Homo sapiens: one gene and its partners. The protein of the gene in region 3 interacts with the protein of the main gene of each other region in a biochemical or structural test. Each region holds a gene or a part of one and is shown on either strand. Other genes may lie near its edges.

What was found. Proteins that work in one complex are often made in the same cells at the same time.
Region 1: of the proteins of IRF3 (region 3) and HERC5, one has a biochemical effect on the other in vitro, tested with the Homo sapiens proteins (one study listed by BioGRID).
Region 2: the proteins of IRF3 (region 3) and DYRK4 form a complex in vitro, tested with the Homo sapiens proteins (one study listed by BioGRID).

Annotation. Positions count from the first base shown.
Region 1 is NC_000004.12:88,467,119-88,474,153, reverse strand, and holds part of HERC5 (E3 ISG15--protein ligase HERC5), read right to left. Parts: coding exon 6,950-7,035; intron 6,524-6,949; exon of another isoform or gene 6,448-6,523; intron 5,809-6,447; coding exon 5,732-5,808; intron 4,998-5,731; coding exon 4,894-4,997; intron 3,541-4,893; coding exon 3,481-3,540; intron 1,746-3,480; coding exon 1,652-1,745; intron 1-1,651.
Region 2 is NC_000012.12:4,607,208-4,614,242, reverse strand, and holds the end of DYRK4 (dual specificity tyrosine-phosphorylation-regulated kinase 4), read right to left. Parts: intron 6,917-7,035; coding exon 6,856-6,916; intron 4,089-6,855; coding exon 3,959-4,088; intron 1,701-3,958; coding exon 1,525-1,700; intron 732-1,524; coding exon of another isoform or gene 729-731; coding exon 490-728; 3' UTR 368-489; downstream 1-367. UniProt on the Homo sapiens protein: Possible non-essential role in spermiogenesis.
Region 3 is NC_000019.10:49,659,049-49,662,869, reverse strand, and holds the end of IRF3 (interferon regulatory factor 3), read left to right. Parts: intron 1-252; coding exon 253-445; intron 446-541; coding exon 542-922; exon of another isoform or gene 923-1,420; intron 1,421-2,025; coding exon of another isoform or gene 2,026-2,041; coding exon 2,042-2,157; intron 2,158-3,036; coding exon 3,037-3,222; coding exon of another isoform or gene 3,223-3,281; 3' UTR 3,282-3,298; downstream 3,299-3,821.

The DNA.
Region 1 (7,035 bases), on a different chromosome or scaffold from region 3:
ATGTATCTGTCTCCCTTACTACACCATGAGCTTCTAAAGCACAGGGAGTATGTCTCTTTTATTCTTCATCGAGTCATCATTACAGTGCCCAGCACACAGCAAGTATTCAAATGTTTGCTGAATAAATGAACACATGCCAAAGGTCTGAGAGTCCGTATCGCAGAACCTCAAGATAGAAAGAAACATTACAGGTCTTCTAATCCAATCATCTTATTCTGAAACAATGGAGGTCAAGGATGCCCTATGATTATTTCATTTACATACCATATGTTCTTTTTGTGGCACAATCAAGGTATAATTAGTAAACAGAAGGAGCCCTTAATGATGAACTGATCCAATCCCTTCCCTTCACAGACGCACAAAAGGGCTTCTATTTTTGGTAATCTTTCCATGGTTGTATTTAGTAGCAATGACTCAGAATCTTACAGAAAGAAAGTTAAACTGGCCCCCACAGGAGGATTTTAGAAAACAAAAGAAAATGAGCTCTAACAAATGTTGATGAAATAGTCCACTGAGTAGTTTCTGGGTTGTTGATACAGGCAGCACTAAGTGTTGTAGGGTCCCAATAAAGGTACATAATTAGGGAACCATTTCACCTCGGACCCCCAGTGGGGCTGTGGTTCTGCCAAAGTTAAGAGAACTGAACTTTCCATCTTTCCTTGAAAGAAAGGAGCGAATGAGAAAACTTGCAGCTGAAATAGAAAATGCTAGTTGTGGCAAACAGAGCAAGTGCGGGAGCTGAAAGGAGGAAGGGTGAGAGATCAAAGATTGAGAGGGAAAGAGAAGAGGGATATGAACACAGAGAGAGATTAAAAAATGGGGTGAGGCTAGAGGGAGGAAGGAGGGGAGGAGGGAAGGAGAGAGAAAGAAAGAAGGAACTACAGTGCGACCCAGAGAGAAAAAAATGGAGAGTAGAACAGAAAGTAGTATCCCCATATCAACCAGTAAAATAAAATAGGGAAATAATAAAAACTACATTAAGAAAAACTAAATTAATAAACGAAGCATGCAGTAAGCCGAGATCGCACCACTGGACTCCAGCCTGGGCAACAAAGCGAGACTCCGTTTCCAAAAAAATAAAAATAAAAATAAAGGAAGCATGTTTGGAGCACCTGCAAAAAGAAAACCTAAAGATAGCAGTAACAGTGCTGAAACAGGAAACAATCATCCCATAAGGAACAAGAACATTCTAGAATCTACAGAAAAGTAGAATGGAAAAAAAAAAAAAAAAAGAATCCAGGCAGTCCCTGGTGAGAGGGATATTCATATCAGAAAAAATGTTCTCATTTCTACATTTATGCTTTGCATATAAAATGTTCTTATTCTAGTGTACCAATCTCAACAAATCCTTAATCATCTTCCTAAAGCCCTGAGTTGAAAAACTTCCCTCTACGAATGTGTATGCATATATGTGTATGTGTGTTTGTGTACAGACACACTATTTAGAATATCTGTAACCTGTGTGACTACTATGCCAACTATTTCACCCTAAAAGGGCAAACTCCTAAATGTTATCTGAGTTTAACTTAATCTGAATATGCTACAAGGTCTCGGAGAATCCCTTAACACAAAACATTTCTTCTGAAATTTTGAGTTCTTTTAAGAAATATTCTGGTGTATTTTCTTTCTCCACATAACAATCTGAAGATACCATGTTAGTAATCCAGTCCTTTTGGGTTAACTCCTTGAAGATGTTTCTTGCTTTATTTAAGTCCAAATAAACAGGCATCATTTCTGTAGTTCTTCTGTAGAAGAAAGATAAATTAAGTATTTTGTTAGATTATCTCCCTAGATGCAAAGTTTCTTCTAGAGCTTGCCCCATTTCAACAAAATTACCTTTTTTCTCAAGTGTGTAACTATAATAAATTGTCTAAATCCAAATGCAATGTAGTAAACATGATTTTTTCTAAAATACCAAAAAATATCAAGGCTGCTTTAACTGTATATACCATAAGACTTTAACTCAGATGCTGTCTTATCTGTAATAGATTAAAAAAATTAATATTTCCCAGTTTAAAAAAAATAGCCACAGAGGGAGGCTGAGACAGGATAATCGCTTGAGCTTGAGAGATCAAGGCTGCAGTGAGTTGTGAACATGCCACTGTACTCCAGCCTGGGTGACAGAGCAAGATCCTGCCTCAGAAAAAGAAAGAAAGAAAAAAAGAAAAGAAAGAAGGAAGGGAAGGAGGGAGGGAGGGAGGGAGGAAAGAAGGGAGGGAAGAAGGGCGGGCCATAGAAAAAAGATAAAGGTTTTTCGAAGGAAGGAAGGAAGGAAGAAAGGACTGACCACAGGAAGGAAGGAAGGAAGACAGAAAAAAGATAAACATTTTTCCCATTTCTAAAAAATACATCCATTTCTTCCCGTTAAATGGACTGAAAAGTGGGAACCAAAAGAGAGGGCTTCTGACCAATAATTTCTTAGTACTTCAATATAAAGTTATTAATGAAATGTTTAAGTATCTTCTCATGGAAGACCTTCTAATGGAAGGTCATGCAGCCATTAAATTATGTTACCGGCTGGGTGCGGTAGCTCACACCTATAATCCCAACACCAGGAGGCTGAGGTGGGAGGACTGCTTGAGGCCAGGAGTTCAAGACCAGCCTGGGCAACATAGCAAAGCTGCTGTCTTTACAAAAGCTAAAAAATTAGCAGGAGGTGGTGGCACGTGCCTGTAGTCCCAGCTACGTGGAAGGCTAAGGTGGGAGTTTTGCTTGAGCCCAAGAGTTTGATGATGCTTGAGCCCAAGAACCAAGATGCTGTAACTCCAGCCTGGGTGATGGAGTGAGACCTTGTCTCAAAAAAAAAAAAATTACCAAAAAAGATAGAATAAAATGTAAAATGGGCAAATATTAGGTAGAAAACAATGTATAAACAATATGATCCAGCTGGGCATGGTGGCTTACACCTGAAATCCCAGCACTTGGGGAGGCCAAGGCTGGTAGATTGCCTGAGCTCAGGAGTTCGAGACCAGCCTGGCCAACATGGTAAAACTCTGGCTCTACAAAAAAATACAAAAATTAGCTGGGTGTAGTGCCATGTGTCTGAAGCCCCAGCTACTCAGGCTGAGGTGGGAGGACTGCTTGAGCCTAGGAGGCAGAGGTTACAATGAGCCAAGATCACAGAACTGCATTAAAGCATGGGCAACGACAGGGCAAGACCCTGTCTCAAAAAAAAAAAGAAAAAAACAAAGAACCAGTATGATCTCATTTTTTTTAAAAGAATACATTTGCATGAAAAAATATAATCATATACGTAAGTGCTAGCTATTACTCTTAAGTGATGGATTATGGAAGATTTTCACTTTCTTTTTATTGTGTGTATTTTTGACATTTTCTACAGCAAACATATATTTACTTTTGTTAAAAAAAATTTTTAAAAAGGGATGAACACACAGCTATTTTACTCTCCAATCATTTTTTTATCCTCTTTCACGGTACTCTTAATACAATTTAATACAATTAATTTATTACATATATTACCTTTTCCTTAAAAAACTTCCAGTTAGACAAGCAGGAGATGAAAATATCTCTTGGATTTCCCTATATTAGTAATAAGACACTGGTTAAACCAAATCACATGGTATACATACATACAGCCTCTTTCTTTACAGCATGAGACATGATAAATACCACATCTTATAACTATCCTTCCAACCTCTCCATTTGTCTCCTATCTGTATGCATATTACCTTGGCTTGGCTTCTAAAAGTCCATTCTGTTTGGTAAATCTCAAAATTTCAGTGGCAAACATGGGAAATAAAAAAGTTTATACATACTCAGAGAAGCCTCAAATAAAGAGGAAAGGCTTGATTTATGGTCAGAACTTTCTTGAACAAACAAAATACTCCCACCCCACCAACTATGCAAGTCCTATTTATTTCTATTCCACTGAAGTAGAAATAAATTACCAGAAATTAAATGGGGGAAGGAGTATGCTCAGTTTCATCTTAGAAGTAGTTGTACAGTTCTTAATTATTTATGCTCTGCAAATTATGATGCAACTATTTTGTGCAACTACTTTGTACAATCATTTTCCAGAATTAGAAAGCCATACCTAAAAATATTTCTAAAAGATGATGTTTGTAAGAATAGGTAGGAGTTCTGTAAACCTATAGGAGTTCTATGGTTTAGAGAAGAATGGTACAAATTGTTCAGCTAAGAATAACAGGTACACAAACTAATGGTTCCAGGATCAAATGGGACTGGGAAACACTATAGACTCTATTTTCTGGCCAGAGAGTCACAATATACATAAACAGAGGCCTGGAGAAGCCCTACAGTAAAGAAAGCTGTCCTCATGGCGCTTACATGCTAGTTGTGATGGGTTAGTTTTATATGTCAACTTGGCTAGGCCATGGTACCAAGATATTTGGTCAAATATTATTCTGGATGTTTCTATGAAAGTATTTTTTTAGATGAGATTAACATTTAAAATGGTAAACTGAGTAAAGCACTTGAACAAGTGAATAAAAAGAAAGGACCTTCCATAATGTGAGTGAGCCTCATCCAGTTGAAGGCCTTAAGAGAAAAGGCTGAGGTCACCCAAAGAAGAGGAAATTCTGCTTTTAGATTGCCTTCAGACTTGAGCTGCAACATCAACTCCTCCCCAAGTCTCCAGCCTGCTGGCCTGCCCTACAGATTTTGGACTTGCCAGCCCCTACAATCTCATAAGCCAATTCCTTAAAATAATCTCTCTCTCTCCCCTCCATAGATACATAGATGGACAGACAGACATGATAGAGATAAAGATAGAGACAGAAATACACACATATCCTATGAGTTTGTTTCTCTGGAAAACCCTGACTACAAAATCTCATATTGCTGTGCAGAACCAGTTTGGGAAATGATACTTGAGAGTGATATATAAGCAGAGAGTCAGACTGTGGGGTGTACCTTTTTGTGCTCTGCCACCGTTTAGTCTCCACATCAGCAATCCATCTCTTTACAGTCCCTTCATTCAGAGTAGGAATTGTCCTCTTCAGATTAACATATGAATTCTGTAAACAAACAGGAAAGTAAAATACAATAATTTAGACACATCAGAGATAGGCACCCAACTTTTAGGTACACTCTAGAGAGTAAAACTGACTTTTAAATATGTGTAATACAGCCCTGGGACAATCACAAAGTGATACTCAACAAATAAGTAATCAATCATTTGCCTGGTTGCCACTTTCTTGTCCAAGGGGGCTTAGACTGAAAGTAAATTTCTTTGAGGACTCAACACTCAGCACTTTATACAAATACAATCAAATTAAACTGAACATCAGACAGCCTTGAAGGGAAGGGAAGATCCTGAAAGAGCTGTGTGCAGAAGTGTGAGGAACTCGATTTCACTTGGTGAAGTAGGGCAGGGAAGTTATGGACTTTTTATTTGCAAGCCCATGAACCTTGGTGTCTTTCTTAGTACTGGCCTGCAAAGTCATTTTTAGAATCTGTCACTCTGTTGTTTGCAAGGATACTGACCAAACATCATTGGCAAGTAGCCCCCAAAAGGTAAGTATAGCCTATGGAAATCACACTGATTAGACATTCACCAGAGAAAAATCTGCTGATTTTTGTGGGAAAATACTGATGTAGTTTAGACAATAAAGGATCAGTAATGTCCAGCTATCCCCCAAAAAGTCAGCCTGGTAAACTGATGATTTTGGAATTCACCAAACTGGGATACTAGAACCCTTAGTTTTGCTTAAAATACCAGGTTATAGAACACCTGGAGATCTATTTTTACCTCTTTCTTTATCCAGAGCAAAATGCTTTGATTCCCTCCAGCAATCATTATTAACTCCTTTTCTGAGGTATGGCTTTCTGAAAGGATGCACAAAGAGTAAGAGTTTTAGAAAGTCATTTGGCACAAACATGCATGTTCAATTTAAATAACTTCAGATTCTTCTTAAACGTAGTCATCTTTTCTTCTTAATAGACAAAACTTAGTACATTTTCTGCCAATTAAGCAGCTGAAATACATATCCTTTGGAGTAAAGTCTAGTTGGCAAACATAGGTAATTCACAAGGTGGACATGTGACATCAGTTTAATATACATAATACAAATATTTATATATAAAATGCAAATATTTGATTAGCTAAATGTTATCAGTTTAATTCAACTCCCATTACTAAAAACCATGTTTTCAAGATTTAAGCAATGACTGCTGGCTATAAAGAATATAAGTACTTTAAGCCCATGTAACTGTTATAAGGAATCAAAGATAATACATGCTGCTTAAGGAAATAACTCTGTTCGTTTTCCTACAAGAAATGAGTAGATTTTGTTACTTGAGGTCACCACTAAGCTTTCAGAAACAAGTAACAGAAATGCTCCAAGGTGCTTCTACAATGGAGTGTTTCAGAGCTCAGACTCTGAGGTCATAAAGGGCACGGGTTCAACTCCAGACAAACCACTTACTGGCCATGATTAAGTGGCTAACCCTTTTCTCTCCAAGTCTCTTTATCCTCCAGTAAAAGAGGAGTGACAGAATACACCTCCCAGGAACTGTTACAAGGATTGGTGAGATAACACAAGTAAGTGCTGAGCACAGTTCAGTGCCAGGTATACGTTGATTGCTCATTATTCTGAGGGTTTTATATGACTGTGGATCAACTTAACCAGGGCAACCAGCCAATTACAAGAATTAGTAAACAACTAATTACAAGAATTAGTAAGTCTCTTGCAAACTGGAATGAGAGCTGCATATGCCTCTGAATCCATTGTCTATTTTATCATTTAAATTCACATTAATCCTAATCTGAAGGAGTAATATAGAATAATTATTTTGCCTCAGTAAATTAGACTGACTCTTGAATTGTTTACCAGTAAAAAATGAAACCAGTATTTAGAGAAACTCCCTTCATAGTCATATGTTGCTTTCTTTGCCACATTACCTAGTTAGAAAAATCATTTTCTCTAAAAAGATACTATGCCAAACCCTATGTTCCTATAGAATTTACCAAGTTTGAGTTCTTCACTTGATGATACTTTCACTGGAAGCGGCATCAGCTGGTCACGTGTTCCACCATTTCCCAGTTGTCCATCT
Region 2 (7,035 bases), on a different chromosome or scaffold from region 3:
TAATAGATGAAGAGGGAGTCTGAGCCCTACAACCTCATTTGAATTCCTGGATCCTGCTGCGCCTGAAACTACATCTACCTTTTCTGATGCCCCAATTATGTAAGTCAATAAGTGTCTTCCGTTGTTTAAACTGCTTTTGAATTCAGCTTCTATCATTTTCAAACAAAAATCCTGACATAGGTTGGCAGTCATGGGCAAGAAGAAAAAAAATTTCTTTTGTTTGGAGTTCCATTAATGATGCTGTAACACTGAGAGTTCAAAACTACCCGCCCCCTCTACACACACAGATGCATATGGAATGAGTTTAAGTGCAAGGACATCCTCCCCCATCCCTCATAAGAGGAGTCATGCCAATTGGCCATGTTAATAGAGTTTTTTAACATAAAGTTTTATGTATTTAAAAAAAACAGTCTGAAGTATTGTACAATATAAGTGCTGTCTTAATACAAATCACTGGTGGAAAGGAGCAGGACATACCCTCAGCAAAGGTCATACAATAGGGGGTAAAACGTTTGTGTTCTTGAGGGAGAAGTTTTTGCTCTGTCCTGGGGAGGTCATGGACACCTCCGCCCCGACAGCTGCCTCTGACTTCTTGGGAGCGTCTACCAGTTGAGGCAGCTGAACAGTGTCAGCTCCGTGCTGGAGACAGTCCTGCTGATCACCTGAATGCTGAACATGCTTCGTGGGGCTATCTTTTGTTTTCTCTGTAGTCTCTTTGGTGATCTCATCTGCTAAAGGAGAGAGAAGACAGAAGGGAACAAGATTCAAATGTGGATTATATGTTAATTGTCCTTTAGGTTGTACATCACTTAGTGGAAACGATGACCGTGATGATATAAAAACAGTTCATTTGTAAAGCACCTCCAATGTGCCGGGCATTATTCTAAGCACTGTACATTTACTAATTCGTCTGATCATTTCAGCGACCCTGGAGAACAGGCTTTATTCTCATTCTCATAAATGGAGATACTGAGCTACAGAGAGGTTAAGTCCACACCTGATAAGTGGTAGAACCAGAATTTAATCCCCAGGTAACCTGACTCTTGTGACCATGTACCTAACCACTAGGCTATATTGCATATAAAAATTTGCATAATGCCATAATCTGGCACTGACAGAAATTCTAAAGGTAATTATAGGGCATAAAGGGGTGGACGCAGTTAATGAAAAAGGGAGGAGGAGAAAGGAAATTGATTATAGGAGAAAAATGGAAAATCCTAATAAGGGGCAAAAAAGATCCAGGCTAATGCCAAATTTCCCTGAAAAGGAAAATCCCAAAGGTAAGAAATGGCAGGCTAGTCATGATGTAGCCACAAGAATTATCCCAGGTTGAGGTTAGAGAAATTGACATGCAAATCCTTCAGAAATGCTTAAACAGCATATTAAACAGAATATTAAAAACAAAGATTTTAATTTCCAGACTACAGAACTGGGGCTTCAAAAATATCACAAGGAGATTTACAGAATTCTAGAATATTAATTCCCGGACTGTGGGACTAGGACTGGTTATTTGACAGGCTGTACCTTTTCTGCTCGAGTGATGACAGCCTTGAACCTTGTCCTTCCTTGTCTCAGAGGGGAAAAAGGAATTGGATTTCCTCAGGGTCTGGGGCCTGGGCTGTGGCTTGAGGTTCCGAGACTGATGAATCCAAGCATGCTTGAGGGCCTGGTCCGGGGTCATGCGAAGAGAAGGTTCCCATCTGCACCCCAACAAAGCCCCACATGGGTTATTGTTTTATTTCCTTTTAATATATTAAAACATTTTTAAAACCCAATAAAGATTTTTATTTAAGCTATGTTGATATCTCAAAGATATATAATCATAGAACAGAGATTATGGCATATAACTTAAAAGTACCTGGAAACAACTAATGGAAATAATCTTTTTAGAAGATGTGTATAACAAGCCAGGGAATATATATTACAGTCCAAGTCTTCCAGCATTCCTAGAAATTTCCTTATAAGAAATATTATTTTACAAAAGCTTAATCAATAGGATTTAGGGTTTGGTAAGCTAAGAATATTAAAACAAAGATTTCAATTTCCAGACTACAGAATTGGGGCTTCAAAAATATTGCAAGGAGATTTACAGAATTCTAGAATATTAAGATTTGCAAGGGGACTTGGATATAATCCAATCAAACTTGTAATACAGTAGCAGAATACATTGACTGAACTACCATCATGGAATCACCCTGCAATTCTTGAGTAATTTCAGTGACAAGATACTAACTCACAGAACCATCTATTCCAATTCTGAAAAAACTCCGATTCTTTAAAAGTTCTTGACTTTTATTGTGCCAAAACTGGTTTGCTTCCCAGTAACTTTTACCCAGGTCCTAATTCATCAACACATTACCATCACACAAAATAACTATCCTAATTTTATGGTTCAGTCCTTCAACCATCTGAAAATATTTACATCGCTACTAACTAATGATCATATGATATGGTTTTCACCATCTGACCACCTTCTGAAATAAGGATATTTTAGCAGTTGTCTAACTGGTGTCCATCATGGTGGGAATAGCTTCTATAACTGCAGGGAGACAGTATTAACATTCTAGACTCATTAAGGTCCTAAAACAGCTCAAACTCTCATTTCTGTGTCAAATGAATTGCTGTTAAACAACATCTCTCCTTTCCTGGACTTCTGGAGTTCGCCTACAAAGTCTAGACACGGGGCTTTACATTTATGCCTATTGAACTTGGCTCAAAACTTTTAGTCTCAAAGATTTTCTAATTAGCAATATATATATATAAGATAACAGTCCCCATCAGCCTGACTGCCTCTTGCAAGTTATGAGTAATCAGTCCTTTGCACTAAAGAAGAAAATAATGCCTTCCTTGGTGCTGAGCTGTGTTCTGGATGGTTGAGGTTTCTGGATAACCCATCTGTCTCAGCAGTTGGTTTCTGTCATTTGTTAAGGTAGGGGTAAAGATGGGGTACAGGATCCTTCCCTACCTTGATTATTCTGATGAGTGAATAGCATGACCCCCTACGATGGGAATACTTTCATCATTACCTCATGGTTCACCCTCTGAGCTAGTACTGAAATTCCAGAGAGCACAGATGCCAGAAGAGTATTTTGATAACATCACTCCATCCAACTGGAAGAATAAGAGACTGTAATGATATGGTCTTCTAAAAATACTAAATTATAGGACTGATAGAACTGGAAGGGAGCTTAGGAATACCGTATTTTATAGGAAAGAACACTGAGGCCCAGAAAAAAGTGATGACTTGCCAAGTATCACATGGATAATCTACTTGCCACTCTGTGGAGATAGATTTACCTCTTTAATAGTCGTAAAATAATAAGAATAGCTAACGTTTTCTAAACACCTTTTAAACTGGGTGCTGTGCTGGGTACTACGACTTAAGTACAGATCTAATTTCTAAGATTCAAAATATGCATATAGATTATAAAAAGTTGTACATAATAAATGGTTTACAGCTCACCTTCCCCCTAATTCCCTAATATAAGACGATTTGGGTACTAAATCCTAGGGGGAGGGGGACAGGCCCTGAAACCAGTTTACACTGGATGTGTATGCAAATCATTACAACAAGCAGTCAGGGGGTTGGCTTCAGCTCACAGAGCAGAAGACATTTAGGACTGGCAAACAATCTCACTGCCAGGCAGTTTGAGGCCAGGAAGATGACAAACTCTACCATACGCTGTGTATTCCAGGGCAGGTCACTTAATCTCTTTGAACCCCAACCTCCATACGTGCAAAACAGAGCAAATCATCTGCCCTGACAACCACACAGTAGGGAGAGATGTCTGATGAAACAACAGATGTGGAAGCAATTTGTAGACTTTAAAGCTCTATTGTTAGCATTTCTTGTTACTTTTATAACTATCTCCCAGCCTTAGTCTTTCACCAGCAAACGTGTGTCAAAGTACAGCATTTAAGAGGAAACCCAGAAGCAGAGATGTCCCAACAAACTCACACCAAACACCTTCTGAGAAAGTCCAGGAAGCTGGTGTCATAGGTTTTCAGCACCATCGTGAGGTCCTTGGAATCTGGGTATCTTTTTTTCCCCCTGTTGTTGGTTATATTTTTAGGAAAACCTTTGGAATCTGTAGAGATAGAACATTCTGTATTTAGTTTCAGGTGTAAATCTTTAGTGGTCACATGATGCTGCTGCTTAGAGTGGCCTCTGTAGCTCTTTTGCTCTCTGTCTTACACACTCGCCTCATGCCACACCCCAATAAACACACACACACACACTCAGTTTGAAATAACCATGTGTAGATTACCCAAGGAATGCAATTTACTTTAAAAATTGATTTTTTCCTACTATTCAGTATGTTCTGAACTTCCTTCCCACTGCCTCCTCTCCAAATCAAAGAAATAATTTAAATGGCTTAACACCAACCAAGATAAAATAATAATGCTAATGATAATAATGACAATGGTAAAGTAAATGTTAAGTGACAAGGTCCTGTGAAATTGTACAAATATCCATTTCCTTTTGGATCATGGCCTTAGCCCTCCCACTTCATCCTACATTGTCCTTTTTACCAATGACCAAAGAAGAATCAAGCTCACAGTCTTATCAATAACAAAGCTCCTAAAGTCATGATCATGTAATTGTTTTTTCTCACTCTGGCCCTCATCAGTCATTCCCTCCATCCCCTTCTTACTACCTGAGCCACCTGGGCCACCTAAGTATAATATCTTACCAGCCTTGAGACAACACCATTTTGCTGCTAATTAGGGGTATTAACTAGGAGTCGCCCGGGGCAGAGGAGCAGTTGGCAGCCCAAACCTGGGAAAGGAACAGTCAAGAACTGAAGTGGACAACCGTGTTTCCCAAACTTATTTTGTCATAAGAATCACAAGGAGCCGTCATTAAAAACGTCGAATCCTGGGTCCTATCGCAATCTTCCCATAGCATAGCTTATAGAAGAGAATCACAGGAATTCGCTTTTTTGCCAAGTCCCCAAATGATTCTTACATTTGGATAGAGTTTGGAAAACACTGACGAAGATGCAGTTCTCAGCAACATTCCTTCTTTCACAGGAAGTGAAGACATGGATATTGCTGCCAAAACCCCATCACCATCCTAAAGCCTAGTGCTGATGGTAGAAATAAGGAACTCTATGAAGTAGACATGCCTATGTCTTTAGTACGTTCCTACGAAGGTGCTCTGTGTTCCCTTCCTGCTAGTCCCCACCTAGATGCTATCTCATGAGTTCAGAGTTACAGGCTCAAGATATGTCTTCCCACAGTGACTCTGCCTAATCCAAAAGGCTGAATTATTAAGTTGTGGGTAGAAAAAGTATATTTGGGATCCAAAGACCAGTTCGCGTGCTCCATGTGTAAATTATACTGGGGAGCCAGCCAGATCCTTTGCCTACCGCCAGATTGCTCGGTTAATGTGTGGTCACCATTCTATGGCAACCAGGACACTGCCCTGCTCAGAGGCAAGGTCTCCAAAGCTCCAGCCATGATTACCAGATGATGTTTAAAAGAATTAACCATTGGAATGAATGGCATGGAACCAACTAATCAGAATGGAAGACAGCCCTGGCACTGGAGTAGGATCATAGAGAACTTCTGCTTGCTTGGCCTTCAGCTTTTAGGTTTTTGGATCATGGAGAGTTTAAGGAGTCCTGGGAGAGGGCCAGGGAGCCTGCAGTTGTAGCAGGGCTCAGGGCTGTGGCTTTTTACCAAATGGTACAGAAATAGACAAATTATAACCCCCACATGGCTGAATCAGTTCATACTGACCAGCATGACCCAAACCCTTTTATCCTAAAGGATCTCCCCACGAGAGTGTTTTGGACCTTCCTACTGATGGAGCAAGTTGTGAACAGAAATTGTGTGATTTGCATACATATTCAGAAGCTGCTCGCAGTTGAAAATCAGAGGTGGGAGGGCCAGGAATGTCTGGGATTGTGTGGTCAGAGGGAGTCCATGAACCGACCTGACAACAATGGCTGGTCAGAAATGTCACTCCAGGTAGCATGGAGTCCCTGTCTGTGGAGTTCCCTTTTCCTCCTATTTGGCTTTGCTCCACTTTGCTGACCTTCAGCCCACTCTGGCTGTTTCTATCTGGGACTCTTAGCTTCCTGTGGTTCTTTAAAGGGATTTTAGGTATGAGATTTGCTGCATCTTTTTGGTGCGTGTACGTTGAAAGCCCTGCCTCAGTTGATACCTTGTCGACCCATCCTTCCATCTTGTATAGGACCACTTAAATAGAAAGGCGGAGGATCATAAAAATCCAGAATTCTGGGAATTATGAGGAGAGGGGCAGCCTGGACTGTGGACGAAGTTTACTCCCAACAATCAGACAGATGACACGTACATAACTACCAGCCACAACACATCAAAGCAAAACTAAGTCCTTGCTTAACCATTGGCAATGAACCTGGCACAGTAAGGTCTGGAGGATAAGAAGAATTTTAGCAGGGGAAACAATAATGCAGCAATGGAATTTTCCACTATTCTTGAAATGAAGCTTCTGCTCTTTGATTTCCCTGCACAGTGCATAGTGTGAGAGGGCAAGTTGCTTGGGAGAGTGGGGAGAACTTCCGGGAGAGGATGCAGTTACAATATTTTGAGGTTGCAATATTTGCTGATAGCTCTTCTGAGCAGGGACCTGGCTATTCTCCTCCTCCTGAGCATTTTTACTGTCAAGACCCTGTTCCCACTGTGACTCCCCCATCCCATCTCCAACATGCTATCCGATTCCCCTGCTCATTATCTTTTACTTCTCTGAAAGACGCTCTTAATCACAGCCCTTTGGTATGTGGCCAGGGGAAAAGAATGAAATGAGCCTTAAGGTATGGCAGGTGTCTTCAAGGCCTGTGACACCTCATGAGACACACTAGGACTTACCAAAGAATGTCTGTCTCCTGGAGGCTGTCTGAATGAAGCCGGCTGGCGGCAGACCCAGCACCTTAATAAGGATAATTCAATTGGTTCATTCTTTGTGGGAGCACAGATTCAAAGGCTGAGGGGTGGAGCGTACTTTGGCCAAGCTTTGCCTTCTACAGATAAGGATTCAAAGCATTAAGT
Region 3 (3,821 bases):
TCTACCCAGCCTGCTTTGCCCAGGTCTTACCTGCATAGAGCCAGATCCTTGGGTTGGAATGGTAGCACCTGGCGTTCATTAGTGTTTGTTTGGCTGTTGATGCCATGGCTGGCTCTGTCCCCAGGCTGGAAGCCCCTTGAAGGCAGAGCTCAAGCCTGACCTCCCTGCGTTGCTGAGAACAGACCTGGTCCATATGAAGTCTCCAGAAAAGGATATGGAAATGCCTGATTCTCTTTTTTTGTTTCCCTCCAGGAAGACATTCTGGATGAGTTACTGGGTAACATGGTGTTGGCCCCACTCCCAGATCCGGGACCCCCAAGCCTGGCTGTAGCCCCTGAGCCCTGCCCTCAGCCCCTGCGGAGCCCCAGCTTGGACAATCCCACTCCCTTCCCAAACCTGGGGCCCTCTGAGAACCCACTGAAGCGGCTGTTGGTGCCGGGGGAAGGTGAGTGTCAGCTGCAGGCTGGGAGGGCTGAGGTCTGGGCGGCAGCCCCTGATTCTCAACCCCTCTCCCCTTCATGCCGCTGCTGCCGCTGCTCAGAGTGGGAGTTCGAGGTGACAGCCTTCTACCGGGGCCGCCAAGTCTTCCAGCAGACCATCTCCTGCCCGGAGGGCCTGCGGCTGGTGGGGTCCGAAGTGGGAGACAGGACGCTGCCTGGATGGCCAGTCACACTGCCAGACCCTGGCATGTCCCTGACAGACAGGGGAGTGATGAGCTACGTGAGGCATGTGCTGAGCTGCCTGGGTGGGGGACTGGCTCTCTGGCGGGCCGGGCAGTGGCTCTGGGCCCAGCGGCTGGGGCACTGCCACACATACTGGGCAGTGAGCGAGGAGCTGCTCCCCAACAGCGGGCATGGGCCTGATGGCGAGGTCCCCAAGGACAAGGAAGGAGGCGTGTTTGACCTGGGGCCCTTCATTGTAGGTGAGTGAGACAGGGGCTTCGACCTGGCCAGTACAAAGCAGCCTGCACAGTGGTTAACAACTCAGGATTGGCCGGGCACGGTGGCTCACGCCTGTAGTCCCAGCACTTTGGGAGGCTGAGGTGGGCAGATGACAAGTTCAGGAGTTCGAGACCAGCCTGGTCAACATAGTGAAACCCCATCTCTACTAAAGATACAAAAAAATAGTCGGGCGTGGTGGCACGTGCCTGTAATCCCAGCTACTCGGGAGGCTGAGGCAGGAGAATTGCTTGAACCCAGGAGGCGGAGATTGCAGTGAGCTGAGATCGCACCACTGCACTCTAGCCTGGTGACAGAGTAAGACTCCATCTCGAACAACAAAAAAAAAAGAACTCATGATTAGGACTGAATTCAGACGCTGGCTGCCCTTGGCCCGCTGTATAACCGAGGCAAAGGACTTTGCCCTGAGCCCGTGGAATCCAAGGATGGTCTCCTCTCTCTACCTGCCTGCCAGCGCTGGGGTGAGACACAGGCCCAGTACACAGAGCCTGCTCAGGGAATTAGCTGCCACTGTCATCATCATCGTAACTAATGATGGTGAACAGACCAATAGCAGGAAAGCTACATCCCTTAGGGTTTCGCTGTGCAGTGGCACTTTCTGCCATGATGGAAATGACAGTCACCTGCACTGTCCGGTGCAGCAGCCACTAGCCACAGGGGCCAAGCACTCAGGTGAGGCGAGTGCAACCAGGACGTGATTCGTTTTAATTGGTTACAATTTAAACTGAAATAACCTTACATGACTAATGGCTGCAATTGGACAATGCAGCCTCAGACAGGACTGAATGCCAACCAGCTTCTCCAGATTCACTGAGCATCCTTGGGAGCATGGGCCCCCTACTCTGGGCCTGTTATGAATGCTGAGGCTTGGGGGCTTGGGGGTGTGGCCTTCCAACAACCCCACCCTGATGGGAGGGAGGGAGGGAGGGAAGGAGGGGACTTTCCCCAAACAAGCAGTCCCCTGGTCGAGGCAGCAGAGGGCCTTAGGTCAGGGGAGGTGGTGGGGGTTATCATTCAAGTTTACGGGGAAGGGTGGGTAGAGGGTCCTCTTCTCATCCCTGACTAGGCTCCTGGGCCCCCAGATCTGATTACCTTCACGGAAGGAAGCGGACGCTCACCACGCTATGCCCTCTGGTTCTGTGTGGGGGAGTCATGGCCCCAGGACCAGCCGTGGACCAAGAGGCTCGTGATGGTCAAGGTGCCTGCAGACCTGAGTCCCTGGGGCTGAAAGGGGTGGCCTTACAGAGGGAAGAGGTTGCTCCCAGGAACTCCAACTCCCAGAGGGCCCTCTAAAAAACTGCAACTTCCAAGATCTCTGCAATAACCAGTTTTTCATCCCCGGGAGCTCCTTCCCATGGCCTCACCTGCAGAACCTGTTTTGAACTCTCTAAACCAGTGGCCCCCAAACTATTTGGCACCAGGGACCAGTCTCATGGAAGATAATATTTCCACGGACAGGGAGGTGTGGTTTCGGGATGAAACTGCTCCACTGCAGATCATCAGGCATTAGATTCTCTTAAGGAGCAGCCGATCCCTCACGTGCGCAGTTCGATAGAGTTTGTGCTCCTCTGAGAATCTAATGCTGCCGCTGATCTCACAGAAGGCAGAGCTCAGGCAGTAATATTCCCCCACCCGCTGCTCACATCCTGCTGTGCAACCTGGTCCCTAACAAGCCGTAGGGGGGTTGGGGACCCCTGCTCTAAACCATGTAGAAGCTGGTGGACTCAAGTTTTAGCTGCCATTGTGAGGCCATGGCTGTGGCTCCCAGGAGTCAAGATCACAGACTGCTCAGCCCTGACGTGTGTGTGTGTGTGTGTTTGTGTGTGTGTGTAAAACTACAACTCCCAGCAGCCCTAGGCCTATGGTTCAGTTACAGCAGGGGGTGTGTGTGTGTGTGTGTGTGTGTGTGTGTGTGTGTGTGTGTGTAAAACTACAACTCCCAGCAGCCCTAGGCCTATGGTTCATCCTAGGTTACAGCAGGGGCTGCAGGGAGTTGTAGTCCTCCAAGCCCTGACTCCTACCTTGGTGGACAGTGGCTGGGTGTTTTCCCTGACTCCTGTCCCCACTTCCCCTGCAGGTTGTGCCCACGTGCCTCAGGGCCTTGGTAGAAATGGCCCGGGTAGGGGGTGCCTCCTCCCTGGAGAATACTGTGGACCTGCACATTTCCAACAGCCACCCACTCTCCCTCACCTCCGACCAGTACAAGGCCTACCTGCAGGACTTGGTGGAGGGCATGGATTTCCAGGGCCCTGGGGAGAGCTGAGCCCTCGCTCCTCATGGTGTGCCTCCAACCCCCCTGTTCCCCACCACCTCAACCAATAAACTGGTTCCTGCTATGATCACTTGTGCGTGTCTGGTGTTGGGTGCCCTCTGACCCAATATGGTTGTTATTCCCGCTCAGGGTCTCAGTTTACCCATCTGTGCAGCTATATACAACTCAGGTGCTCAATGCATGAAGACCAAGCACTGCAGGGGGCAGCTGACACCTCCTCACTTCTGCCCAGGGACCTGGTGGGTGATGGCTGTCCCCGTGTTGTAGACCAAGACACAGGCTGGGAGAGGCGCAAAGGTCACAGAGTAGGAAACACAAAGACTAGCCAGAACCCAGGCCCCCTGCCTTGCCTATGAACAGTTTGGGCAAGTGGTCCTTCTCCTTCCAGGCCTCAGGCTCCCCTCCACGTGGGGCTGGAGGGGTCTTGGTAAAGGGGCTCTGCGGCCACCCTGGAGCCTGCAAAGCCTGCCTGCCTGGTGACCCTGGGCACTGTCACCTCTCCTGGTTGGGCCGCAGTTCTGGGTGATGAAACTGGCAGAAGCCAGCGCAGCCCTGACTCACCCTTCGGCCCTTGCTGCTCTGTGCCTCAG